7 linked regions of the Homo sapiens genome follow. The protein of the gene in region 4 purifies or fractionates together with the protein of the main gene of each other region. This does not show direct contact. Each region holds a gene or a part of one and is shown on either strand. Other genes may lie near its edges. The genes, in order: PCSK6, MYO19, JAG2, EFNA2, GPR107, METTL13 and OAF.

The links.
Region 1: the proteins of EFNA2 (region 4) and PCSK6 purify together in Homo sapiens (affinity purification with mass spectrometry; one large-scale study listed by BioGRID and IntAct). This does not show direct contact.
Region 2: the proteins of EFNA2 (region 4) and MYO19 purify together in Homo sapiens (affinity purification with mass spectrometry; one large-scale study listed by BioGRID and IntAct). This does not show direct contact.
Region 3: the proteins of EFNA2 (region 4) and JAG2 purify together in Homo sapiens (affinity purification with mass spectrometry; one large-scale study listed by BioGRID and IntAct). This does not show direct contact.
Region 5: the proteins of EFNA2 (region 4) and GPR107 purify together in Homo sapiens (affinity purification with mass spectrometry; one large-scale study listed by BioGRID and IntAct). This does not show direct contact.
Region 6: the proteins of EFNA2 (region 4) and METTL13 purify together in Homo sapiens (affinity purification with mass spectrometry; one large-scale study listed by BioGRID and IntAct). This does not show direct contact.
Region 7: the proteins of EFNA2 (region 4) and OAF purify together in Homo sapiens (affinity purification with mass spectrometry; one large-scale study listed by BioGRID and IntAct). This does not show direct contact.

The regions. Positions count from the first base shown.
Region 1 is NC_000015.10:101,486,908-101,490,928, forward strand, and holds the start of PCSK6 (proprotein convertase subtilisin/kexin type 6 isoform PACE4-AI preproprotein), read right to left. Parts: upstream 2,801-4,021; 5' UTR 2,764-2,800; coding exon 2,467-2,763; intron 2,247-2,466; exon of another isoform or gene 1-2,246. UniProt on the Homo sapiens protein: Serine endoprotease that processes various proproteins by cleavage at paired basic amino acids, recognizing the RXXX[KR]R consensus motif.
Region 2 is NC_000017.11:36,496,869-36,500,368, forward strand, and holds part of MYO19 (unconventional myosin-XIX), read right to left. Parts: intron 2,445-3,500; exon of another isoform or gene 2,293-2,444; coding exon 2,207-2,292; exon of another isoform or gene 1,692-2,206; coding exon 1,398-1,691; exon of another isoform or gene 899-1,397; coding exon of another isoform or gene 738-898; intron 1-737. UniProt on the Homo sapiens protein: Actin-based motor molecule with ATPase activity that localizes to the mitochondrion outer membrane. Motor protein that moves towards the plus-end of actin filaments. Required for mitochondrial inheritance during mitosis.
Region 3 is NC_000014.9:105,162,277-105,165,776, forward strand, and holds part of JAG2 (protein jagged-2 isoform a precursor), read right to left. Parts: intron 1-3,500. UniProt on the Homo sapiens protein: Putative Notch ligand involved in the mediation of Notch signaling. Involved in limb development.
Region 4 is NC_000019.10:1,284,384-1,288,672, reverse strand, and holds the start of EFNA2 (ephrin-A2 precursor), read right to left. Parts: upstream 2,801-4,289; 5' UTR 2,505-2,800; coding exon 2,365-2,504; intron 1-2,364. UniProt on the Homo sapiens protein: Cell surface GPI-bound ligand for Eph receptors, a family of receptor tyrosine kinases which are crucial for migration, repulsion and adhesion during neuronal, vascular and epithelial development.
Region 5 is NC_000009.12:130,070,906-130,074,405, reverse strand, and holds part of GPR107 (protein GPR107 isoform 3 precursor), read right to left. Parts: intron 1-3,500. UniProt on the Homo sapiens protein: Has been proposed to act as a receptor for neuronostatin, a peptide derived from the somatostatin/SST precursor.
Region 6 is NC_000001.11:171,788,160-171,791,659, forward strand, and holds part of METTL13 (eEF1A lysine and N-terminal methyltransferase), read left to right. Parts: intron 1-2,292; coding exon 2,293-2,457; intron 2,458-3,500. UniProt on the Homo sapiens protein: Dual methyltransferase that catalyzes methylation of elongation factor 1-alpha (EEF1A1 and EEF1A2) at two different positions, and is therefore involved in the regulation of mRNA translation.
Region 7 is NC_000011.10:120,221,032-120,224,531, reverse strand, and holds part of OAF (out at first protein homolog precursor), read right to left. Parts: intron 1-3,500.

The sequences.
Region 1 (4,021 bases), on a different chromosome or scaffold from region 4:
ATGAGCAGGGATGGAACTGTCAGAGGTGACATATGCGTACCATGTGAACACAAACAGCTTCCTTCCCTTACTTCACCCCCATTTACTCATCTGTAAGTCAAAGCTAATAATATCTACATCTTATTTATGAGTCACAAATTCTCCTGGCTGAAAAAAAGGCAAATAAGGTTTTCAAAGAGTTCTTATTGAGTGGGTAGAGGCTCAAATGCTCCAGGCCTTTTCCACATTAGCAGTGCACTTAGAGGGGGGAAAGAAAAGCTCGTTTTGGAATAAAGAGTAATAGGCCCTCCGTGAGTAATCACACACAAGCCTCTGAGACAGCTCCTATCCCCAACCAGCTAATCTCTGTTAGTGAATGTCACCGCAGTGCCACTGCCAGCACCATGCCTGAGTGACCGGGCTGCGTGGCATTCATGCTGGCTGCACTAGACAGAGCTGGGGAGACCCCGATTAACTCCCCAGAATATCCTGGGTACGGAGTGTGCATCGGGGCGAATCTTCTCTCCCATCCGCAAAACCAGGAGAGCAGACTGCACTAAGAACTCAGTGAGCCTGACAGAGGTTGTCTCAAAGGGGCGGCATGGCCAAGGGTTAGGCATTTTTATTCCCACAGATAGAAATTTCCGGGGAGAGTTACCTGTGCCTCTCTGCCTCTCTCTTGCAGTGTGAGCTCACAGCTCAATTTCAGCTCCATTCTGCTCATTTAATTTTAGAATCCCAAAACCCAGGCACTTTGTAATTTATCGCGTAGTTTAAGAGTCACTTTTAGCTGAAGACAAATTGCTGGGCCACCTGGGCACAGCAGCGAAGTGTGGCAGGAGCCAGGGGCACTACGCAAACATGAGGAACACCTTCTTCAGCCTGGACAATCAGCCAGGGAGAGTCAAGAACTACAGAGACAAACGAAGTCAGTGCTACCCGACGGCAAAATCTGAAATCACAGGATGTTTGGAGGGCCTTGAGTGGTTAAAAAAACTAAATATCTATATGGATATACATGTGCGTATATGTATGTGTGTATATGTGTATATATGTAACATTTTATATATATATATGCATATATTTAAAAGGTCTCCAAAGATGTGCTAGCATTCTTTCAGTAAACTCGAACCTGCCTTGTGAAGATTCCTTCATTCGAATGGTGGAATCCACCCCTCCAGCCACACACCTAATAGTACATCAACGTGGGGCTTGGGATGCAGAACTAATGTCATTTCTATCAATCAGGGACGCCACCACACCTTGCTGGCTTCTGCCACGGATAACGATGAAACTACATTTAACACTGCCTGGCACTAAGGTTTAGAGTTATGAGTCGGTGCTTCCCTGTCACTTCACTTAACCCTCTGAGTGTGTAGTTTGTAGATTTGTTAACTGCACTGAGAGGTCCCCTGGTGTGACCTCAAAATAACGGCCTCTCCAGGAGCCATAAACATGGATCAACCCCAACTCACCGCCCCTCAGCCCGGTAGCTGGTTGAGAGAGGAAAAAGGGACCCGCCGGGAGGTCCTTTGAGGGTAATGCCGCCTTTGTGCCCAGGGCGTGGCCTGCTTGCTCACTGACAGAAGAGGGGACAGCCGAGGGCTGCGGGGCTGGGAGGGCCCCGTGGGGGCCGGTGAGGGTCAGGCCCCGGTCCAGGCTCTGTGGCAACGCAGCATTAGATCTTTCCGACAACCCAGCGGTGTAGACATTGCCACTGACTGCAAAGGAGCTTGTCAGGGGAGCGACTTGCCAAAGGTCACACCGCTCGGCCATCAGAACCGCGGCAGAAGCCCCCACACAAAGCGCCCTCCCTCCGCTCCTGGAGAGGTTTTAAACCCAGGACCCCCGGCCCTGCGCTGTCCCAAGGCCTCTCCGACGGCGGCCGGGCTCCAGGGTGCAGGCTCCCGGCCATCTACCCCCGGGAGCCGCGGACACCGAGGGAGCGCGAGTCCCCGAGACGCCGGGCCACGCTCATGTCACCCAAGCAGCGGCCGCGGCCGCCTTGGCGCGCGCACCGGGTCCGGAGCTCGCGCCGCCCGTCGAGGGCAGAGGGGCCGCTCCCCCGCGGGGGAGAGCCGGGTGGGCGCCCAGGACCCAGCGGCGGACGGCGCGCGACGCCTGAGGCAGCCCAGACTCCCCCGGAGCCCGGCAGGTGTCCGCGCCGCCCCGGCTTCTGAGGCCACACTTCCGAGCGCGGGGTTGGGCGGCACTGCCGGGGGACTTGCGGTCGGCGCGCCGGACCTGCGTGGGCGCCCACGCGGGACCCCAGTCCCCCCCACCCCGCCGAGTGTCCCGCGCGCGCCCCCCCGGGCGACACCCCCCCCCGCAGGGCGCCCCGGCCGCCCGCCGTCCCCAAGCGGTCCCGGAGCCTTCCCACGCGCGCGCGGGGCCGGGGCCGGGCGGACAGGACTGCGGAGGCGCCCCCCTCGCGCGCGCCGGAGGCCGCCGGGAAAGTTTTGGGCGCGCGGGGCCGGCCGCACTCACCTGGCCCAAGTTGAGGTACCCGTGCGCCGCCGCCACGCGGTCCGCCTCGGCCGGGCCGCCCAGCACTTGCACCGCCCAGTGGTTGGTGTAGACGGGGCGCGGCGGGGGCGCGGAGCAGGCGGCAGGCAGCGCCAGCAGCAGCAGCCAGCGCCAGGGACGCGGCGCGAGCGGCCGGAACCCGGGCCCGCCGGCGCCCCCCGCGCCCCCCGCGCCCCCCGCGCCCGCGGCGGTGTCGGTGGCGGCGGCGGCCCGGGGCGGCGGCCGGGGCCCGGGCGCAGGCGGCGCGCGCGGAGGCATAGCGGCGACAGGCTCGCGCGGCGCCCGAGCTGCGAGTGCGCCGGGGGGTGGAGTGCCGCCTTTTAAAGCCGCTCCGCGCCGGGGAAGCGCCGCCGCCGCCGCCACCGCCGCCGCCAACACCGCCGCGGGCGGGAGCCGGGGAGGAGGAGGCGGCCGCGGCGCGTTCCCGCCCCCGGGCCCGCGCTCCTGCGACCGGGCTCCGGGGCCGAGAGCCGTCCGGGAGGCCCGAAACGCCCCCCACCGGGGGAACTTCCCCGCCGACTTCTGGGGCTCTCGGGACGCGGTGCCGCCCCAGAGGCGTCCTCGGCCCGCGAGTTCTGCTGGGAGCGGGGAGGCCCCGGCGTCTCAGGTGAGTCCCCGGTTCCCTAGACCGGCCGGACACCCGAAGGCCGCACTCACCTGGCGGGGGCCTCAGACGCCTGGCGGCCTCGCCCGCCTCCCTAGACGGAGGGCTCGCCCGTGTGCGGGGTCCCAGGGAGAAGAAGCTGCGGGGAAGACAGTGGGTCGCCCGGGACCAAGCCTGGCTGAAGGGACACATTGAGCGGGGCAAAGGCATGTGGCGCATCAGCCGGGCTCACGAGCGTGTACCCGAGAAACCACCGCACGGAGCCCATGGCGGAGGCCGCGGCCCATGCTGGGAGGCAGGCCGTGCAGGTGAACCCCCAGGCCGCGCAGGTGAACCCCCAGGCCGCGCAGGTGAACCCCCAGGCCGTGCAGGTGAACCCCCAGGCCGCGCAGGTGAACCCCCAGGCCGTGCAGGTGAACCCCCAGGCCGTCCGCTTAGCCTCGCTGCGATCTTGGGCAAATGACTGTGGTGGCTGAGGGCAGGCGCCCCACCTGCAAAATGCGGGGAACAGTGGCATCTACCCCGTCGGGCTGATTTGAGGATGAGGTCAGCTTTTGCTGTACAATAAGCTGTCCGTAAACGTTCGTTTTTATGAGCCCAGGGCCTGCCGTGTGGTAGGTGTTCACTAGACGATGTACACTCTTAAAAGCACCCACTGAGCTGGGACCAGCAGTAGAAAGTCAGCTGAATCATCCTCACCCCTGCTTCCTGGAGCAGCCTGGTATCCAGTGGATAATGATTTGAAGCACCCTGGAGATGGATGGAAATGTTCACACCATAATCAAGGAATTATGAAGGGTAAGGATCGCTGCTGGATCTCTTCTGTCATCCCTCCCAGGACCCATTGGTCCTACTGGCCCACTTCCAGAAAGCAAGCCATCAACCTGCTTAATATAGGAAGTAAAACAAAAA
Region 2 (3,500 bases), on a different chromosome or scaffold from region 4:
TGGGGCAGAACCAGGATCCAGACCCTGGGGTTCTACCTCCCAGTGCAACATACTTTCACCTTTCCTCGGCCACTTTAATTCTATGAGGCCTGGCTTACTGGGGTGACTCACAAAGCCCTGAGTGACAATGACTTCCTGAGTGTGCTGGCTGACTTTTCCCTGGATGCTTATATAAAAACAGCTGGGCACGGTGGCTCACACCTGTAATCCCAGCACTTTGGGAGGGCAAGGCAGGCAGACCACTTGAGGTCAGGAGTTTGAGACCAGCCTGGCCAATATGGCGAAACCCCGTCTCTATTAAAAATACAAAAAAAAAAATATAGCCAGGCATGGTGGCACATGCCCTGTAGTCCCAGCTATTCGGGAGGCTGAGGCAGGAGAATCGCTTAAACCCACTGCATTCCATCCTGGGCGACAGAGTGAGACTCCGTCTCAAAAAATTAAATAACATGAAAAAAAAAAAAAACCCACAGAGAACTTGGACCACTGACCCTGCTTGTCATTTCGTCAGCCAGAAAAGGAAAAAACCAAGCAATACAATTTGGGGAAAACATGGTGCCAAATCCAGTGCCATTTGAGGTAACAAACTCCTCACAACCCAAGTTGTGATGTGGGACTAATTAGATTATTTGCTCTCAAGTCTTGGGTAGTTTCTTTTTTGCTATGTCTCGTGAATTTTTCCTCTTTTCTGTAATTGACCTATTATTACCCTAAACCAAACTTTTTTTTTTTTTTAGATGGACTCTCGTCCTGTCACCCAGGCTGGAGTGCAGCGGCGCAATCTCGGCTCACTGCAACCTCTCCCTCCCAGATTCAAGCAATTCTCATGCCTCAGCCTCCCGAGCAGCTGGGACTACAGGCGCCTGCCACTACGCCCAACCAATTTTTGTATTTTTAGTAGAGATGGGGTTTCGCCATGTTGGCCAGGCTGGTCTTGAACTCCTGACCTCAGGTGATACACCCGCCTCGACTTCCCAAAGTACTGGGATTATAGGCGTGAGCCACCGCTCCAGGCCCTAAGCTAAACTTTCATCACCTCCTGCTCCTGACTCATCTAAAGCCTTGGTTCTCACAGTGTGGTTCATGGAGCATCAGAATCAGCTGGGAGCTTGCTAGAAACGCAGCATTGCATTTGGAAATGGGACTAGAAGATTTAGAGATGCTGAAATAATTAGAAGCAGTTTTTAAAAAGATAAAGGGCTCTGGAAGATTCCCAGTTATAACAAAATAAATAATCCAAACCTGCAGCTGATTGGGACATGCAGCCCTCTGGTTTACCCAGTAGGGTTAGGGATGGATCTTGTCCCAGCCTCAGTCTCATTCCCGCTGTGAACTTGTAGGCTTTGCTCCTGCTGTTCTCAGGAACAAAGCTGTCATGGCCATCACACACAACGTACCTGAGGCAGCGCTCGGATGGACGTGACACCAGCCTGGTCTTGTGCTGTCTGGACAGTGTAGCTACTGGGGCTGCCCCTGGGGAGCTGGAGGCAAGCCCAGACCACTAATTTCCTCTGAAAGCTGCCTACACCCATAGCCGTATTGGCCAGGACCAGTCCCAGGGGCCAGAGGCGGATTATTGCCTCCAGGAGCCTGGTCTGCAGCGGCGAGGTGCTCAGGGAACAGGGAGCTTGAGAGAAGTGTTTTTCTTCCACACCATCCAGCTCTTTAGCAGCAAGGCAGGCCATTCTGATCTTAAAAAGCAAATATCCCTTTATAGCTTTAGATTTATCTAGCCCTCTTAGCAGAAAATGGAAATCAAAACTATCTTTAACAAATCATCTTAACAAGGTGAACTGAAGGCACCTGGTTGCAAACAGCTGGCTGCCCTGAACCAAACTGGTTCCATATGCCACAAGTCTATACACCCCAGGCAACTGTGCTTAGGCCTTACATATGCTACTTGAAAACAAGATAAGAGTCCATCAAGATATAACTGATATGCCATAAAACCCAGTCTTCTAAAGTGTACATCCCAGAGTTTGGTATATTCCCAGAGTTGCTTATACCACTCTTCACCTACATAACCACCCTGCAGGGTAGGTGTTACTGTGCCCACTGCATACATGAGGAATATGAGGCTCAGAGAGGCTAAACAACCTGCCCAAGGCCACCTGCATTGCAGTGGCAGAGCCAGCATTCCCACTCGGGTCCATCTGGTCCCCAAAATTGATCCACTGCCCACCCCGACTTCTTGGGTCTTACTTACTCTCCACTTCTGCCATGCACGCTTGATGACTGTGGCAGCTGCATGCAGCCTCTGGATGTGTTTCCGAGTTAACCAGGAACGAATGGCTAAGAGGTTTGCCCAGAAACAGGAAAGAGATAATAAAGGGGCCATTAGAGCTGTCAGTGACCTCGCTGCAGCAGCACCACAGTTGCTGTCAAAGTTTCAAATACGTTTTTTTTTTTTCAATAAATTGCTACAAATAAGGTTCTAAAATCAATACATAAGGCAAAATTGGCTTTTAAACATTCCTTACACTGCCCACACACTTGAATACACCTACACAACACAGTGAAGGGGCACTGGGGAGAAGGACTGGCTGAGGGCCCAGCAATCACTTCCCGTCTCAGGCTGGGTCCAGGTCAGCACCCAGGGAATGGGAGGGGTCTGGATTGTCTGTGCCTTTAAAAACTTTTTTTTTTGTTTTGTTTTTAATCCTCAGTTGAATTTGTTCGCTTTATGCATCCCTGATCTCACATCACCATATACCCAAACACTGATACAATTAATAGATGGTGGTAATTTTTATTCCCTTCTCTGCAATTTCAGCATATTCTTTTTCTTTTTGTTTCTTTTTTTTTTTTTTTTTTTTTTTTTTTTTGAGACAGGGTCTTGCCCAGGCTGGAGTGCAGTGGCACGAACAGCTTATTGTAGCCTCCGTAAGGCTGTAGCTTCAATCTCCCAGGCTCAAGCAATCCTCTTGCCTCAGCCTCTGGAGTAACTGGGACTACAGGCATGTGCCACCAGGCACGGTTAATTATGTTTTGTTGTTTTTTTTTTTTTTGAGACAGAGTCTTGCTCTGTCACCCAGGCTGGAGTGTAATGGTGCAATCTCAGCTCACTGCAACCTCTGCCTCCTGGGTTGAGGTGATTCTCCTGCCTCAGCCTCCTGAGTAGCTAGGATTATAGGTGCATACTACCACACTTGGCTAATTTTTGTATTTTTAGTAGAGAAAGGGTTTTGCCATGTTGCCCGGCTGGTATGAAATTCCTGGGCTCAAGTGATCCTCCCACCTCAGCCTCCCAAAATGCTGGGATTACAGGAGCGAACTACTGTGCCCAGCTTCCTTATACAATTTTTTAATGCCTACACACACACAAACACACCTTAAAAGGAGGGCATCGCCCTTAATATGTAGTTTGACATCTAGGTATGAATATCATTTTGGAAGTGGTTCTCCATTAAATTTATAATATTCTTCAAAAACACTTAGCTGCATCATAGGGATGGTCCAGTCCATCATTTGGCCATGATGTCACCACTGTTAGATATTTG
Region 3 (3,500 bases), on a different chromosome or scaffold from region 4:
CTGACCCACCCCCACCGCACAAGCAGACCCGCAGCCCAACTTCATCTCCCACCATCTGATTGCCTCCTCCCCAGCCCGAACCCTCAAGGCTAAGTCTAAACCCCTCCTCCTGTCCCCAGGCAGGGGCAACAGCAGTGGCACAAGCCAGAGGACAGGCAGACAAGACAATAGATGTTCCACCCCAGGCCAGGGCACCTCAAAGCCCAGGGTACCCCAGGTCCAGGGCACCCCAAAGCCCAGAGTATCCCACAGCCCAGGGCACTGCATGGCCCAGCATACTCCAAGACCCAGGGCACCCCAGTTCCAGGGCACCCCAAAGCCCAGGGTACCCCAGAGCCCCAAAGCACTGCATGGCCCAGCACACCCCAAGGTCCAGGGCACCTTAAAGCCCAGGACACCTCAGGTCCAAGGCACCCAAAGTACAGAGTACCCTCCTGCCCAGGGCACCCTAGATCCAGTACACCCCACAGCCTTGTGCACCCCATGGCCCAGTGTACCCACAGTCCAGGGCACCCCAAAGCTCAGGGCACTCCAGGTCCAGGGCACCCCCAGCCCAGGGCACTGCATGGCCCAGCACACCTCATGGCCCAGGGTACTCCAAATGCCAAGCACCCTAAGTCCACGGCACCCCACTGCCCACTGTACCCCAATCTACAGCATCCCAAAACTCAGGCAACCCAAGTCTAGGGCCCTGCACGGTCAAGGCCAACACAGCCTCCCTGCTGCCCCGCTAACGGCCCCCCCAGGTCCAGGGCCCTGCACGGTCCAGGCCAACACAACACAGCCTCCTAGACCTGCTGCCCCACCAACGCCCCGACTTGGTTTCTTCTCCTCGGCCTCCCGCATCAGCCTCCCGCCCCCTACGGAGCACAGCGCTTGGTGCAGGCGCCAGGAGCTCCAAGCACAGATACATTTCCTGAAACCTGAGCTTCTGAGAGGCCCAGGCCTCTGCCACCATTGTCACCCGAGGCAGGGAAGAAGGGGTGGGGGCAAACACCATCCCCAGGGCTCTGGGCCCCAGGGCCGCAGCAGGAGGAGCAGACCAAAGCCCATCCCACGCAGGAACACACACACCCATGCTCCACACCAGAGACCAGCCAGGGCCTTGCCTGGGTGTACCCCCACTCCCCAGCACACCCCCTCTAGGTCCCAGGTCCCCCACCGTGAAGACGGTGGCAGCCAGGGCCGGCTAGCACCTGCCACAAAGCCCAGGGTACAACTGATGCCAGCCACACCCTGCTCAGGCCTGGGATGTGGGGATAGGAATCCCGCTCAGGCCTGTGGTCTGGGGACAGGGACTCCGCTCAGGCCTGTGGTCTGGGGACAGGGCCTCCGCTCAGGCCTGTGGTCTTGAGGACAGGGACTCCGCTCAGGCCTGTGGTCTGGGGACAGTGACCTCACTCAGATCTGGGGTCTGGGGACAGGGACCCTGCTTAGGCCTCAGGTCTGCAGACAGGGACCCTGCTCAGTCCTGGGACCTGGGGACAGGGACCCAGCTCAGGCCTGGGGCCTGAGGATAGGGGCCCCACTCAGGCCTGGGGTCTAGGGACAGGGACTCCAATCAGGCCTAGGGTCTGGGGACAGGGACCCCGCTCAGGCCTGGGGTCTGGGGATAGCGACTGTGGCTGGGGCCTGGGATTGCAGATCCTTGTCTTCCTGCCCCCACTCCACCACCAGCAGCAGCTCAGGCCGAAGCCTGGCTCCACAAGCACCCCTTCACTGGCCTAGCTTGCTCCCCTCATAAAGACACCATGGAGCAGCCCAGGAGGGCCCCTGAGAGCAGCAGTCCCCTCCCACCCAGGCCTGCCGCCTGCTCCCCAACCCGCCCCTCCACCTCCCAGCCTTCCTATCGTGCTGCGGCTTTGACCCTTCAGCCCACCCTCAGGGACCAGCGACAAACCCCCAGCCCACTCTCCAATCCTCCCTGGCCAAGGGCAGTCCTCCCTGGCTCCAATGGTCCCCGTGTTGCCTGGGCACTGAATGCCCCACCCTGCCCCCATACCAAAGCTTTGAACCAGACCCCCAATGTACAAGGCGGACATGCCCTGAGTTCTCCCCAGGGCTCTGGGCCCCAGGGCCATGGCAGGAGGAACAGACCGATGCCCACCCAACACAGGAACCCAGATGCCCACATTCCATACCAGACCAGCCAGCTCTCCTGGTCCCTACTGGGAAGGTGTGGGAAGGAGGGGGGTGGTCCCCAGTGTGCAGACAGGATCCCCTGAAGGTAGGGTGGGGAGGCCAGGGCCCTGTCATCCCCAGCCCAAGCTCAGAAAAAACAGGAAGCAGAGTGGTGCTGAACCTCACACCTGCCACGAGCAGCTTAGGTAGCTCCAGGCACAGACCTCAGCCTGGCCCACCTTGAGCCCTAGGGCGGCTGGATGCAGGGGGTGGGCTCTGTAAAAACCTTCCTCCCTAGGGGGCAAAGGAGAGGGTAGGGAAGGCTGGGAAGGGGAGGAACTGGACAGGTCTGGGAGCCGGGCTGGGGGCACAAGCAGAGCCCGAGCTGGGAGTCCAGCAGCCCCATCTGACTTCGTGAGACCTGCAATGAAAAAGCGGCAGTGTGCCCCTTTCACAGGTGAGAAAAGCTCAGCCCTTCTGATGGCCCAGGACCTCAGGCCTCCTGAGCTGATAGACGCAGGGTCAGCCCCAGGCCCACCTCCTGTATCTACAGGGCCTTCACCCATCCCGTTCTCCTCATAAGCCCAGATCTGTCACGGGGACCATGCTCCAGCCACACCACCCCGCACAGCTGCCCTGGAGCCCAGCACACACATGCCAAGACAGAACAAGAAAGACCCTCGCTGGCAGGCAGGCTCCTGGGCTCCTGGCTCCAGAGATGGGCCAGCCAGGCAGGCACGACTTCCAGCTGCACCTCTGAGGGTGGGGCCCTGGCTGCCCAGGTCACGGCCAACTGCCACCACCCTGCTCCTCCCTCAGCCAGCAGGTGTCCCCTGGGCCTGCCACCTACCAGGCCCCAGAGCAAAGCTCCCTGCTGCCCCCAGCATGACACTACTCCTCCCCAAACCTCCATCACCACCTGCCATGCCTACAGAGCACCCGGGGTGCGTGCACACACGCAGCTGGGAGAATGTGGCCTCACCCTGCCAGCTACAAGCCAGGCACCAGAACCAACCCAGGCTGACACCGGCCTCCTGGGGACGTCTGGGGGTGGAGCCAGGAGAGGAGGGGCAGCCAGGCAGCCTGCTGGCATGTGGTCCACCACCTCTCCACATTCAAGACCCTGGGCCCACCCACTGAGGGAAGCTGAGCCCGAGACCAGCACAGATCCATGACTAATAGCACACAGACCCCGGCCACAAGAAGCCAGGCCAGGGGGCAGAGGGCCACCCAGCCAGGCCTGGGTCAACAGCAGAGACCACAAGGTGGGAGAGTCACTCAGGGGGCAGGGGGTGGAGGGAGCGAATGCAGAGCCCAGACTCCCCCACTCCTCTTCCACAAGGCCCTCTCATTCCCTTTACTCCAAGGAGCCCAAAAGC
Region 4 (4,289 bases):
ATCGCCTGGGCACAGGTGCCAGGCCAATGGGCGGAAGGGGCGGCCGGCGACGCTGCGGCACTGCCCGGGCCTGCAGGCCCCATCGAGCACACGGTCCCCTGGTGCCCACGCTGCTGTCTGCCCCCCATCGCGGCTGTCCCCGTCTCCAGTGCCTTTCTGTATGCCCCTCTCAAAGACTTGGGGTCCCCGCATCCCCCACACACCTGCCCGACCCCATCATCCCTCCCCGGCCAGCCCAGCCTCACACCTTAGGCCTGCCGGCTGACGCCACTCCTCTCCCCAAGCCGATGTCCCCTCCACAGGGTCCCCTTGGATACGGAGGCCCAGCACCACCCCCTGCTGTGCCTGACACCCCCGCCACTCAGGCACAGGTCCCGGGCAGGTGCCCCTGGACACCAAATCTGAGAACTGCAGAGACCCCTGATGTCCGCGACAAAGCCCTGATTCTGGCTGGATCCCGGCTTCCCGGGAAGGTGCTCACCCAGCCCTGGGCCCCACTGCAGGGTGTCGGCTCCGTCCCCAGCAACCCTGGATACCGCAGGCAGGAGAGGAAGGAGGAGGCAGCCTCGGTGCTGCCCAGGTCGGCTCTGCGGACCAGCAAGGCCGTTCCCTCAGGCAGCGGTTTGAGCTGGGCAACCAGGTCAGACCCGGAGCAACAGGAGGTGGCTGGGCCAAGCCAGGCACTGGGGAGGCCACTTCCTTCCCCTGGCCGGGGGTCCGGCCCGCAGCCCACAGCCCTGTGGCAGGTGGGGCAGCAGGACGGCCCTGGTGACCACCTTCCTCCCCCGGTTGCCGGGTCCTCGTGTGTTTGGCGTTTGCTAGAACAAAGGACAGGCCACGCTGGGGACGGGAGATTCCGCAGCTGAAACCAAAAACTTGGGCCGGGGAAGCGCTGCCCGCTGGACTCCCCGCACGGCCAGCGACAGCCTTAATCAAACCCACATGTGACCAGCACAGCGGGCGGCTCGGGGACCCGCTCTGAGGTGGGCCAGCCGTCCCCCAGCGGCCCGGGGTCCCTGCCCTCAGCCCCCAGGGCCCGACCCGAGGCCGTTGACCAGGGTGGGGGGTGGGCCTGTGCGTGTTCCCCACCCCCACGGCGGAACACGGGCCGCCCTTGTCCCCGAGCCCGCCTCAAAGAGACCCCTTCATGCAACTTTCCTCCCGGGGACCGAGGACAGCAGGAGACAGAGGGGACAAGGAGGGGTGGCGGGCTCCAGAGGGCGGCTCGGTCGGCACAGGAAGCGGCTGGAAAACGGAGAGAAAGTGACCAGTAGCAGAAGAGTGGGGGGGGGCCGCCTCAGCCCCCGATGTGCAGCTCCGTGTGCCTTAGGAAGACGGTGACACCCTGAGTGCTGGGGCTGACTCCCTCCCGAGCCCCAGGACCCCCAAAGCCCCGGCTCCCACGGGACCCCCAGGGAAGCTGCAGCCTGCTCCTGTCTTGGAGACCCTGGGATGGTTCAGAGGGTTCTACCCACGTCCAGGCCATGGCCAGGCCCCGGCAAACTTTTTTTGCTCTGACCAACGGGGGCTTCTCCTGTCCCCCACGTTGTGCCTGGCCCGGACCTGGTTCAAAACAAGGGGGCCTGCAGCAGGCGGGTGCGGCATCTCGGCCGGGCGTGGCAGGCAGGGCACTGGGCCACCTGGGTCCTGCCCCCAAGTCCCCCCCTTGCATGACCTTGAGCCAGCTCCTCATCCCCTCTGCACCTCAGTTTCCTGGTCAGCGCCCAGAGGACAAGAGAGGACTCCATCCCACTGCCCCTCCCGGGGCTGACCCCCAGCTCCCCGGCCCCTCAGTCTCCTTTCAAAGCTGGGCCCTTGGCCCCCTGGAGTGAAGCAGATGCTGGGTCCTGAGGGAGGGACACTCCAACTTCCCCAAGTTCATCTGGGGACCTGCGGGCAGGACGAACCCAGAGATCCCTCGAGGGCCACAGTCCCCCACCTCCGGTGCCAAGGTCCCCGGGGATCCCCACCAAATGCGAAACCGAGGGGGCTCCCCAGAGAAGCGGGTGGATCAGGGGTCCCCCCAAGTCCAGGCAGGCAACTCAGGGGCTACCCGGCATCGGAGGGTACCAGAGGGGTTCCCCAAACTCCAGGAGACGTCGGCGCTCTGGGGGATGTGGGGCGCGAGTCCCCACAGTCCGTAGGGCAATGGGGCGCCCCGGGGAAGGCAGGCGCGAAAAGGGCGAGTCCCCCAAACTCCGGGGGGCCGGAGCTCCCTGGGGGGCTCCCGCGGGAACCGGGCGCCCGCATCCCGGCGGCGGCGCGCGCGTGGGGGGCGCCCGGAGCTCCGGGGGCGCGAGGCCGGGCGCGGCTTGGGGGGCGTTGGGGGGTCCCCGGGCGCCCCCCGCGCGCGGCCGCGCTCACCTGGGGTTGCTGCGGTTCCAGTAGACGGCGTAGCGGTCCGAGTTGGCGCGGGCGGCGTCCTCGGCGCGCGCGAAGGGCGGCGGCGGCAGCGGTAACAGCAGGAGCAGCAGCGGGAGCAGCGGGCGCTGCGCGGGCGCCATGGCCCCGGTCCGGCCGCCGCGCTCGCTCTCCCGGCCGCCGCCTGCCAGCCTTCTCCGCCTCCTCCGCCGCCGCCGCCGCCGCCGAGCGGGCGGGCGGAGGGCGGGCGGGAGGAGGGCGCGGCGGCGCTTGGAGATCCCGGGCCGCCCCCGCCTCCGCGCGCGCGACCTCGGGCGCCGAGAAGTCAGGCGGCGGCGGGGCGGGGCGCCGGGGTCGCCCCGGGCGCAGGACCCGGCCGCGCGGACTGTCGGAGCGCGGGCCGCCGCCGCCGCACCCGCCGGGGAGGGGCCCGGGCTCCGGCCTTTGTCCCGCCCGAGCGTCGGGAGGGCCGCGGGCGCCCCCTCCCGCCGTGCCCCGGCCGCGCGGGGACTGGGCGGGGGTCTCCAGCCTGCGCCCGCCCCCTGCCCCGGCCCACCCCGTCTCAGGCTCGTCCCCCGGGGCCTGCCCCCAGCGACCCCGATTCTGCGCGCCCCCCGCCGGCATCCGCGTGGCCCGGCCTGGGGTCTCCGAGGGGCGGGGGCGCACCCTGCCTCCCGCGCCCCCACGCGCTCCACCCGGCCCGGCCCTGGGTCCCGGGCCTCTCACCTGCCCGGTTCCAGCGCTATCCGCAGCCTCACCAACCCCGACGCACGCGTCCCAAATCGGGCTCGGCCAACTCCAGTCTCCCTGCGGGGGCCGGGGCAGAGTTTCAGAGGGGCGCTGGCCAAAGTCCAAAGCTGCTCGGGCTGCGACCTCCCTGGGGCCCTCCTGGGAGTCGCCTCTCCGGACCCACGCTGTTCCCTGGGGATGGAGTAAGTCCCTACACCTCAGCCCTAAGGGTGCCGGGAGCATAGTAGGTGGACCGATGTGGAGTGTGAGCAGCTGGGGATGGGATCCAAGAAGCCCAGAGTGAAGCCCCGGCCGACAGCAAATCAGTCTCCACGCACGAATCCTGCAGGCAGGGGAGGGCCGCTGCCCGGGGGCACAGCTTGTGCAAAGACCCGGGGTCTGATCTGTTCAGGGAACGCCGAGTGATTTCTCCTCCTGGTAGGCTGACACAGGTGGGGAACTGGGGGCCTGGCCTCTGCTTTGTCTTTTTTCCAATCTATAGAGACAGTGTCTGGCCATGTTGGCCACGCTGGTCTTGAACTCCTGGGCTCAGGCGATCTTCCCACCTGGGCTTCCCAAAGTGCTAGGATTACAGGCGTGAGCCACTGCACCTGGCCTGCCCTCTGTTTTTGCCCTTATTCATGCCACAGCCTCCCTCACCAGACTCTGAGCTTGTGGAGGGTAGGCTGTCATCAAACGCTGGCTGGACTTTGCTGGCGATGCCCAGATCGTGTTGTACGTCTCTGAATTAGTGTCATTCACCAGGCCCAGTGCAGGAGAGGGAACTGCAGGGCAAGCACCAACAGCCCTTGGACCCGAAGGTCCCTGTGTGAGGCATTACCCAAACTCCTGGCAGGGACCGTGAACCCAGAGATGGGCAAGCTAACCTGTGCCCCAGCAAGGTGGGGTGGGGACCGGACCCACCACCGTCCCACAGCTCTGAGACGTGGTGGGCTCTGTCCTGTGTCTCCTGCGTGCCCTCCTCCCCCGATTCCCCAGCGGGCCACGCGGGCCACACCACCTGACCTTTGTTCAGGCTGGGTCCTGCTGGGAAGTCCTTCCACTTTTTCTTCCTGTTAAAATCTTGCTCTTCCAGAAAGGTCTGTCCCACCCAGTGCTCTAGCGTCCCTGCCAGGACAAGGTTCTCAGTTCTCTCTCCTCCAGGGAGCTCAGCCCGTCTGTTCTGAGCTCCAGGTCTC
Region 5 (3,500 bases), on a different chromosome or scaffold from region 4:
AATTTGATTCTTGGTGTGAAGGGTAACTTTTTATTTCTAGATTTGGGGTTTCCTGGACATCCCGGGTAGTCTAATGGCAAACACCAAAGGCCTGTGAGGACAGGCTGTGGAGCAGATCTTTGGCAGAAACAGCATAAACTAAATCCCCTCCTCTCCCCCACAGAACTACACCACACTGCACTATCACTAGCAGGATTTTCTTTCCTGCCCACTCTTGCATTCATAGCTTTTTGACAGCCCTAGATTATGGGCTGAGAAGCAGAGGGACACAGTTCCAACTCACCTCCCTGCTCAGGCCTAAGGCTATGGTCCCTGTTTCCCCTCAACATCTGTTAAAAACCCAGGACTCGGCCGGGCGTGGTGGCTCACGCCTGTAATCCCAGCACTTTGGGAGGCCGAGGCAGGAGGATCACTTGGGGTCAGGAGTTCGAGACCAGCCTGGCCAAAATGGGAAACCCTGTCTCTACTAAAAATACAAAAAAATTAGCCGGGCATTGTGGCACATGCCTGTAATCCCAGCTACTTGGGAGGCTGAGGCAGGAGAATCACTTGAACCCGGGAAGCAGAGGTTGCAGTGAGCCGAGATCGTGCCATGGCACTCCAGCCTGGGTGACACAGTGAGACTCTGTCTCAAAAACAACAACAACAAACAAACAAAACAAACAAAAAACCCAGGCCTCTGGGCTTCAAGTTTCTGCAACGTCACAGGGAAGCCCTGGCTTCCCTGTTCTTTCCCCAATGGAGTTTCAGCTCCTTCTTCCCTTTTTTGGGCCCCTGGGAATTTCCCTTATTTTCTTAGGAGCTTGGCTATGTGGTGAAAACATGTTTGCTGGATTTCCACTTCCTGGTGGGCTGGAGTGGCTTGCAGCAAACCAACATTCTCACAGAGAACAATTAGAAAAGCCAGATAAGATAACAGAGGTCATCTCCTGGAATCTACAAGAGTGGGTCAATGGTAAAAGCCAGAAAAGCTAAGGCTCCCAGCCTTTCTTGGAATTCTCTGAGAGAATTAAACCCACGGAAAATGTCTTCAGTATCTATTTTCTCAATTCTCTCAAGGACAGTATATGATGACTACCCTCCTAGAGGCACAGGAGACATTAACTCAACTACATAAATGGATGCCTTAGCACATTAGGGCTTCATTCTCTGGCAGAATCCTCAGTGGAGCAGGACTGCAGAGGGAGAGGATGAGGGAAAATGAACACACAATTTCTGCCACATAAAACAACGTATATGAATCACAGCCATATTCATGTAAAACAAACTGGAATGCAGGGGGAAATCATCTGTGGTGACGGAGGTGAAGACAGTGACCACTCTCAGGAGAAAGGGGCTTTCCTGGGACTTGAGGGAAGGTGAGGCTTAGGGTGCTTCTGGAGGGGCTTGGTAATGGTTCTGCCTCATTTCCTGCGGGCTGCATGAGTGTGTCTACGTTCTGGAAATGCGCTGAGTTGTTTGCTTATAATGAGTAATTTTTAGCCATGTATATTACATTTCAATAAAGTTTTAATTTTAAAAGTATGTCTTTTCTAATTGGTCCAGCATGAAGCTGCTTTGCAGCAGAATGGAAACCTGCTAGGCTTTCATTTATACTTAGGCCACCACAATACAGGTTTTCTTGTTGTTTTGTTTTTTTTTTCCAGAAAATGTTTCGATTGCAACCTGATAGCAGTTCCCCCCCCAACATAAATAGTACATTCCTTTTTTTTAAACCTTTGCATCATCATTTCATTTGATGATACAATGCCATGAAAAACAGGTTTTTGAAGACTATTTTAAACAATAAAAACAGCATCGGCTGGGCACGATGGCTCATGGCAGTAATCCCAGCACTTTGGGAGGCCAAAGCAGGCAGATCACCTGAGGTCAAGAGTTCGAGATCAAGGCCGGGCGCGGTGGCTCACACCTGTAATCCCGGCACTTTGGGAGGCCGAGGCAGGCAGATCACAAGGTCAGGAGATTGAGACCATCCTGGCTAACACGGTGAAACCTCATCTGTACTAAAAACACAAAAAATTAGCTGGGCGAGGTGGCACGCGCCTGTAGTCCCAGCTACTCGGGAGGCTGAGGCAGGAGAATGGCGTGAACCCCAGGGGGCGGAGCCTGCAGTGAGCCGAGATCACGCCACTGCACTCCAGCCTGGGCGACAGCGAGACTCCATCTCAAAAAAAAAAAAAAATTAAATAAATAAAAAAATAAATAAATAGAAAGAGTTCAAGATCAGCCTGGCCAACATGGTGAAACCCCATATCTACTAAATACAAAAATTAGCCAGGTGTGGTGGTGTGTGCCTGTAATCCCAGCTACTTGGTAGGCTGAGGCAGAAGTGCTTGAACCGAGGAGGCAGAGGCTGCAGGGAGCCGGGTTGTACCACTGCACTCCAGTCTGGGAAACAGAGCAAGACTGTCTCAAAAATAATAATAATAAGGCTGGATTACGCCTGTAATCCCAGCACTTTGGGAGGCCGCGGCGGACGGATCACCTGAGGTCAGGAGTTTGAGACCAGCCTGGCCAACATGGTGAAACCCCGTCTCTACTAAAAGTACAAAAATAAGCCAGGCTTGCTGGCAGGCATCTGTTAATCCCAGCTACTTGGGAGGCTGAGGCAGGAGAATCGCCTGAACCTGGGAGGCAGAGGTTGCAGTAAGCGGAGATTGCACCATTGCACTCCAGCCTGGGGGACAAGAGCAAGACTTTATCGCAAAAAACAAAACAAAACAAAAATAGTAATAATAATAATAATGATAATAACAACAGCATCACAACTCCCAGTTTTCAGAGTCTTCCAAGAACTAGGTTATGTGCCAAGGGCTTTACCTATGATTTCTGACCCTCGCTCAGCTCAGTGTGGTTAAGAGAAGCAGCCCCACGGTAGCGATGAAGACACCAGTTCAGAGGAGAAATGACTACCTGAGGCCAAGCAGACTATAGCTAATAAAGCTGGGGCTTCAAACTAGATCTGATATGAGAGCCATTTTCACATTATCATTTCCTAACAAGGGAAAGTAATCATGATACAACATTAAATGTAAAAAGCTATATTCAGTAACATTTGATAGAAAAAAAAAGGGTGAGGGGCCAGGCGAGGTGGCTCTCGCCTATAATCCCAACATTTTGGGAGACTGAGGCAGGCAGACTGCTTGAGCCCAGGAGTTTGAAACCACCCTAGGCAACAGAGAAACCCCATCTCTAGCAAAAAAAAAAAAAAAAATTAGCCAGTTGTGGTGGCATCCTAGCTATTCAGGAGGCTGAAGTGGGACGATTGCTTTAGCCCAGGATGTCGAGGCTGCAGTGGGCTGGGACTGCATCACTGCACTCCAGCCTGCGCCACAGAGTGTGACTCTGTCTCAAAAAAAAAAAAAAAAAAGAAAAAAAAAAAGTTAGGACTGGGCCTGGTGACTCTCATCTATAATCCCAACACTTTGGGAGGCTGAGGTGGGAGGGTCACTTGAGGACAGGAGTTCAAGACCAGCCTGGGCAACACAGAAAGACCCCCA
Region 6 (3,500 bases), on a different chromosome or scaffold from region 4:
TTAATGTCTTCGGTTTAAAGGCATCTGTTTTGCAGGTGCTCCATATACATCTGTGTATTGTTTCAATAGGCCTCTGTGAGGTGAGCCAGAACTATGGAAGTTGCAGGTGAGCCCTGCCCTCCATAGTGTGACTCACCTGTTTCAGAGGGTTTTGGATTGGCGGGTGACTTAGAGGCCTTCTAGTATACCACTGTTCAGTAAAACTGCCTGTGATGAAGGAGATGTTTAGTTCCTGAGTTTCTAATGTGGTCGCGACTAGCCATATGTAGTGCTGAGCGTTTGGAATGTGGCTAGTGTAACTGAGGAACTGAATTTTAATTTTCTTTAATTCTAATTAATTTACATTTATATTTCAACAGCCATAGGGGGCTAGTGGCTAGTATTGGACAGTGTAGATCTAAACCATCTCTTCTAGGATCCCTTTAAGTGGTCTCCCAGCTGTCACTCAGAAACTCCCCCGATGGGGAATCAATAGTTTGTTTTACCTGTGTTAGTTTGTATTTTAAAAGTGATACTTGTTCATTGAAATCACTTCAAAAGTCAAATATAGACCGCGAAAAGTGAATGCCCCTCACCTCTCCGTCTCCAGTGCATCTTCCCTGTCTGAGGCGCAGAGATTCAAGGATGGAAGCTGAAATGGCTCTCCTGATTCCCAGTTGTTCCCTTTGCCTGACTGGCCTGCCCTCATAGCAAGGCCATCTGGGAGGAGGGTGGAGACAGAGAATTCAGATGCTTGAGGTCATAGACTGGCTCTGAGCCTAGAATCAAGTTACCCAGCGAAATGGTATTTTTCTTTAGGGGTTTTCCCTGGCCAAGAGCACCCAAGATTGTTGGGTTTCTGCCCTATTGTTTGGTCACTGTGGCTGCAGGTTGGTCCAGTTTCATCTCACTAAAATCTCAGTAAAATTGCTTAAAAGAACATTTTGCCCCTTTCAGTTTGGGTTTCAGGTTTTTTCACCATTGTCATGTTCCTTGATTTCTTGGTAGCACTTTGTTCTCATGGAAAGAACGTTCTCCCTCATGGGAGTATTGGTGAGCAAGAAGGAGAGCATATTAAAAAGTGATTTAATATATCTGAAAAGCACCCCGACTCCACTCATCAGCACTTTTTACTGCTGGGGAATGCAGCTGATCCCTATGAAGACACAGCCATCCGTTTAGTATGATACCCTGGAGCAGGGAAGGGAGTGGTGAGAGGGAAAGTGGAGTGGCTTTTTAGGATTTATTTCCTTTTTTGAATACTTGTGATTTCCTTCTTCAGCAAAGGTTGGTAGTGCTACCTGTGTGGCATAGCAGAAAGATGATAGGTGATGGAGACAGGCAGTCCGAGGATCAACTCCTATCTCTACCATCTGCTGATTCCCTATTTACTTAACACTTCAGTGGCTTAGTGTGTTCATGTGCCAAGAATTGGAATGATAAGGTTGTTAGAAGAGCTAAAAAAATAAAAGTTACGGTATAGTAATTGGCACATAGCAGGTGATTAGTAACTTTACCTTTCTTTAAAAGACTTTATGAGTAATCTTTTCTCCTGTTAGTGGCCTTACATTTCTTAGACGGGAGGTACCAGGGCTCCTCAGTTGAGTTTTCCCAGGTTTTTGAGTGTGCATTTGCCATTTCCTTTTCCAGCTTCCTTGTATCCATTGTATATGTTAAATGTTTAATGACTATGTCTTTGTGGGGCGGGGTAGGGGGGGCACATCCTAATTTATAGTGTTTATCAGTTCTCTAGTATAAATACCACCACTGTATTTGTTTGTTTTACGTTGCTTATAAAGGAATACCTGAGACTGGATAATTTGTAAAGAAAAGACTTTTATTTTGGCTTATGGTTCTGCAGACTGTACAAGAAGCATGGTACCAACTTCTGCATTTGGTGAGGCTTCAGGAAGCTTACAATTATCACAGAAGGTGAAGGGAGACCAGGTACATCACATAGCAAGAGAGGGAGCAAAAGAGATGCCAGGCTTTTTTCAACAACAGCTCTAGAGTGAGAACTCACTCAATACCATGGGGAAGGCACCCAGCCATTCATGAGGGATCTGCCCCCGTGACCAGCATGGTGGCTCCGACATTGGGGATCACATTTCAACGTGAGATTTGTAGGGGACAAACATCCAGATGATTTCACTACGGCCAGTTTCAAGCTATCAACATGATGTCAACCAGTTTGCAAAATTTTAACGATTGGGTCTTTTGAGTGTTCAAGCCATCTGGAGCACACTGCTGCCAGTAACCCTTGCTTCCTGAGGACTAGTGTACTAAGCATAGGGCTTCATATCTCTTGTTTAGCCCAGAAGAAGCGGAAAAAGGACAGGAAGAAGCAGCGGCCTGCTGATGCGGAGGACCTCCCTGCAGCCCCGGGGCAGTCCATTGATAAGAGTTACCTGTGTTGTGAACACCACAAAGCCATGATCGCTGGCCTTGCCCTGCTGAGAAACCCAGAGCTACTCCTAGGTGAGAGAGATGCCACTGCCTTCCACAGAAGGGAGCATAAAGATTACAGACCTAAACAATTGGTGTCACTTGCATTGTAGTTGAAGAACAGCAATTACAAGCTGACAATGTATCTTTCTTCATCTCAACCATGTTATAAGTTAATGAGCATTCTAATTAACTGTTGCCTCAAACTCAACCTGTTATATTGAAATTGTATTGAAATATGTTAGAGTCTAAGTGGTATTTTTTCTGTTCATTTCTTTTTAAAATTAAGGTATATCATGTATTCAATGAGATATGTAAAAATACACAGATTTTAATTGTTCAGCTTTTCTGTAATGCATTATTTGAACAAAAGATGCAATTCTATCTTGAATTTCTACTTTCTGAAAAGATTCATATTATAGTTAATGCAGTCATAGCCTTATCGCTAATAGCAGGTTTGGATCTGACTGCATTAGTGAAATTGTTCATGTTTTGTCTGTGATTGTAACCGTTTTCACCTGAAGTCCCTGAATGTGCCTTCTTGGAATACCCTATACTTTTGTCCTATCTTAGTGTTGATGTATGTCACTAGAATCTCAGTTCTTAGATTTAATTCTCAGGGTCTGTCTCCTTCGGGTGACTTTTGTTGTCTTCCTTTGATCCCCCTGTGGTGGCTGTGCTCTGTGCTTAGGAGTAGGAGTTGGGCCTTTGTTTTCCTGTGATTTGTGGAACTTGAATGGCTTACCCTTACTTGGTGAGGGTGTCTGAGAAGACGGTGTGGCCTTTTGAGTCAAGGGCAAGGGACATTGCACCTCTGCTGCCTTGTAATCATGAGCAAGATTGTTTGGCCACTCTTCTTCCCTTTCCTAGAGAGGGTCTAATAATTCTTATAGTGAAGAAGTCTTTTTTTTTGAGACAGGGATTTACTCTTGCCCAGGCTGGAGTGCAGTGGTATGATCGCAGCTTACTGCAGCCTTGACCTCCTTAGGCTCCCACGTCAGCTTACCGTGTAGCTGGTACCACAGGTGTGTGTCACCATGCCCAGTTAATTTTTCTACTTTCTATAGACAGGATTT
Region 7 (3,500 bases), on a different chromosome or scaffold from region 4:
CAATACATGCGGCAAGGGACTCACAGCTCCGCCCCGAAGCTGCAATGTATTAGTGAGTCCTCCAGGCTTTCCCCTAATTTCTCTGATGTGTAAAATGGGGATGATCCCAGTTATGTGACAGGGTTGTGGTGAGGACTAAGTAAGTTATCTGAAGATTCTCACATGGGGTCAGCGCTAGCTGGGATTACTCTTGTAGGTGACCAGCAAGCATCGTAGGTGGTCTGCAACAAACGAGTGCATGTCATCTCATAAATGCCCATGTATTTCTGCAGTCCTTTAACTCTACAGAGTTTCTCTTACTTGCCATTATTGTAAATCATCTCTGGAACGATGAGGTATGGAAGTATAGGGGGAGGTTTTCCAGAAAGGGAAACTGAGGCTCAGCTGTTGAGGAAGGTTCCATTAGGTTCCTTATGATCCCAGAGATTTGTGAAGAAGGTGATCAGAGCTCAGCCAACCCCTGCTTCCTCTCAACAGGAAATCCCTTCTTGGTCATGGTGCTGCAATCTCCTTGTCCTGCCAGCCTGGGCTATCTGATCTTCCCCTCACTCAGGTCGGCTGAGGAGAGATGGGAGGCTGCTCTGCCTGTAGCATATTCCATTCTGGGCTCAATTCCTGCCAGGTGAGACTTGATACCAGACTTCCCCTGCTAGAGCTTGAGCCAGGCCATGTCCCTGGCAGGATCCCCCAGGAAGGATCCAAAAACCACTTCCCTGGTATTTTCAGCTCTGACTCTTTGGAGAGAAGCCTATCTGGATATTCACAGCATCTTCTCCAATACCGCAGGTGCAGGAAATATCCGGAAGTCTCAGGGCTGCTCAGGGGTCTCTTTGCTTGGTGACATCACCTGACTACCGTTGGCAAAAGAAGGTATTTGAACTTTCAGACCAGACTAGAGGATGAAAGAAATCTATTTGAGCTTTTTTCCTGCTTCTATATTAATAATGTCATCAATGACAATAACAAAATGCTGTCAAAATGGGAACTGACAGGGGGTGCAGGAAGGGAATGATAATTTCTCACTGAGAGGATTTCCTCTGTATCTCCTATTTGTATAGGAAAAAGAGTTACTGAAATTTGTAACTAGAAGAGAAAAAACATTGTTTCCATGGGTCAAAAGGATGTATGATCCTTTTTAAAATCCTTACAACAGGCGGTAGGAGCTATGATTGTTACCGAGCTTGGATTAGGTAACCTGTTCAACGTCATGGACTAAGAGGAAACATAGCCAGGATCTTAATCCAGACAGTCTGACTTCAAAGCCTGAGCTCTCTTAACCAGAATCCATAATTGCCTCCTGGATCAGCTAGTCTCATCTCCTTGATGCTCAGCTAAAGAAGCTGGAACTCGGGCACACAGAGGTTGTGCGGTCTGCCCTTGATGCCTGAGCTGGCCAGCAGCAGAGGTGGGATTAGGACCCGCTCCCCATCATGCCCATCTGGCGGCAGCCTGCCTTAAGTCAGCACACCTGCCTTCGAATGTGGCGGCTCTGGCTCGTGGTTCCTGCAACTACCAAACAGCATGACACAAATAAGAGAAGAGGAGGCAGGAATACCCTTCTAACCCGCCTGCCTGCCCTGCCAGGACTTCTTTTTTTGTTTTTTGTTTTGTTTTGTTTTTTGAGACAGAGTCTCACTCTGTCACCAGGGTGGAGTGCAATGGCGCGATCTCGGCTCACTGCAACCTCCACCTACCGGGTTCAAGCGATTCTCCTGCCTCAGCCTCCTGAGTAGCTGGGACTACAGGCATGGGCCACCACACCCAGCTAATTTTTGTATTTTTAGTAGAGACAGGGTTTCTCCATGTTGGCCAGGATGGTCTTGATCTCCTAAGCTTGTGATCTGCCTGCCTCGGCCTCCCAAAGTGTTGGGATTACAGGCGTGAGCCACTGCACCCGGCCTCTGCCAGGACTTTTTAAACTACAAATTCTCCGGTCTCTCCTTTGTGTGCATGGTTGTTTTTTTTTTTTTCTTTTGGAGACCGAGTCTTATTCCGTCACCCAGGCTGGAGTGCAGTGGTGCAATCTCGGCTCACTGCAACTTCCGCCTCCCAGGCTCAAGCAATTCTCCGGCCTCAGCCTCTGGAGTAGCTGGGATTACAGGCATGTGCCACCATGCCCGGCTAATTTTTGTATTTTGTAAAGACTGGGTTTCACCAGGTTGCCCAGGCTGGTATCGAACTCCTGACCTCAGGTGATCCGCCTGCCTTGGCCTCCCAAAGTGCTGGGATTACAGGTGTGAGCCACTGCGCCCGGCCCTTTCGTCCTATTTCCCCAGAAAAGCACATTCCACTTGCTGATCCCTGAGAAGGAGTGGGCAGCCCTACTTTCTGGGTCTATTTGGTAACAGGACTCCATCATCCTGACCAGTGTCCCTCCCGCTTTCCACTCCTTGCACCTCAGACTCCCTGGCAAGGTTCTGGGGCCCCCTCTTCTTCCAACCTTCACAGGGAAGGGTGAAAGTCCCCTCAGATGCTAAGCCCAGGCCAGATGGAAGCCTGACTCCCAGCCTTCCTCCTTGCCCAGGAATCTGTTGGGATGACGTACTTCATGTGGCCTAACACCTAAAGCAGATGCTTAGCTGGGGAAGAGCCTACAACAGGGACTGCAGGCAGGCTCCTGAGGCTCAGGACCCAGGATAGGGTCCCCAAGACGGGAGGTTGTTATAAGGCTCCTTCTCCCACAAGCTTCCAGGAATCTCCAGCCTACCTGGAAGAACTGGAGCATACTACATCCAGGGCCAGGATCTGGGCCACGCAGAGGGTGTGGCAAGTACCCTGGGGAAATAGTGTTTGCTAGGGTCCTCGTCTGTAGTTTTAAGTAAGGAGTAGGTAGGCTCTAGGATAGCACAGAATTTAAGAACAAAGGCTCTGGAGCCAGTGTTACCCATGTTCAGATCCTGGCTTTGCCTCTGCTGGCCACATAACCTTGAAGGGATTTACTTAACCTCTCTGTACCATAGTTTCCACATTGGCAAGCTGAATAAAATGATAGTATCTACCTCAAGGGACTGTTGCAGGGAATAAATGAGTGAAAGGTTTCAGAACACAGTGGGCTGAACTTTCAGTTTCTCTCTTGTGGCTGCAATTCCTGGCTCTATGTCTGCCTTGCTCCACCTGAAATCTACTCCACTCCTGAAGACCCAGGAGTTGAGATTGTTCTCTTCTAGATGTACCTATGGCCTAGACAGGTCAGGTGACTCCTCTGGGGCTTGCAAGTAATCAGCCAATCAGTGGGAGAGCACTGATTAGCAGGACATGGGGCAGGGCCTTCACAAACACCTGGGCAGGGGAGTGGCCTTGGCCAAGACACAGATTCCTGTTTTCCAGGGGATGGTGGAGGAGGCTGACTTCTGACAACTCAAGTCAGCAAACAATAGGCCTAGGATTGAGGTTTACTCCAAGTGCAATGGAGGTAAAGGGTGGATGAGGGAGTGCTCGTTGTCCCCTTAAGGTTGGGGCTGGGGGTGGCATGAGGGAGGGAAGACTTCGCACAGTGAGGG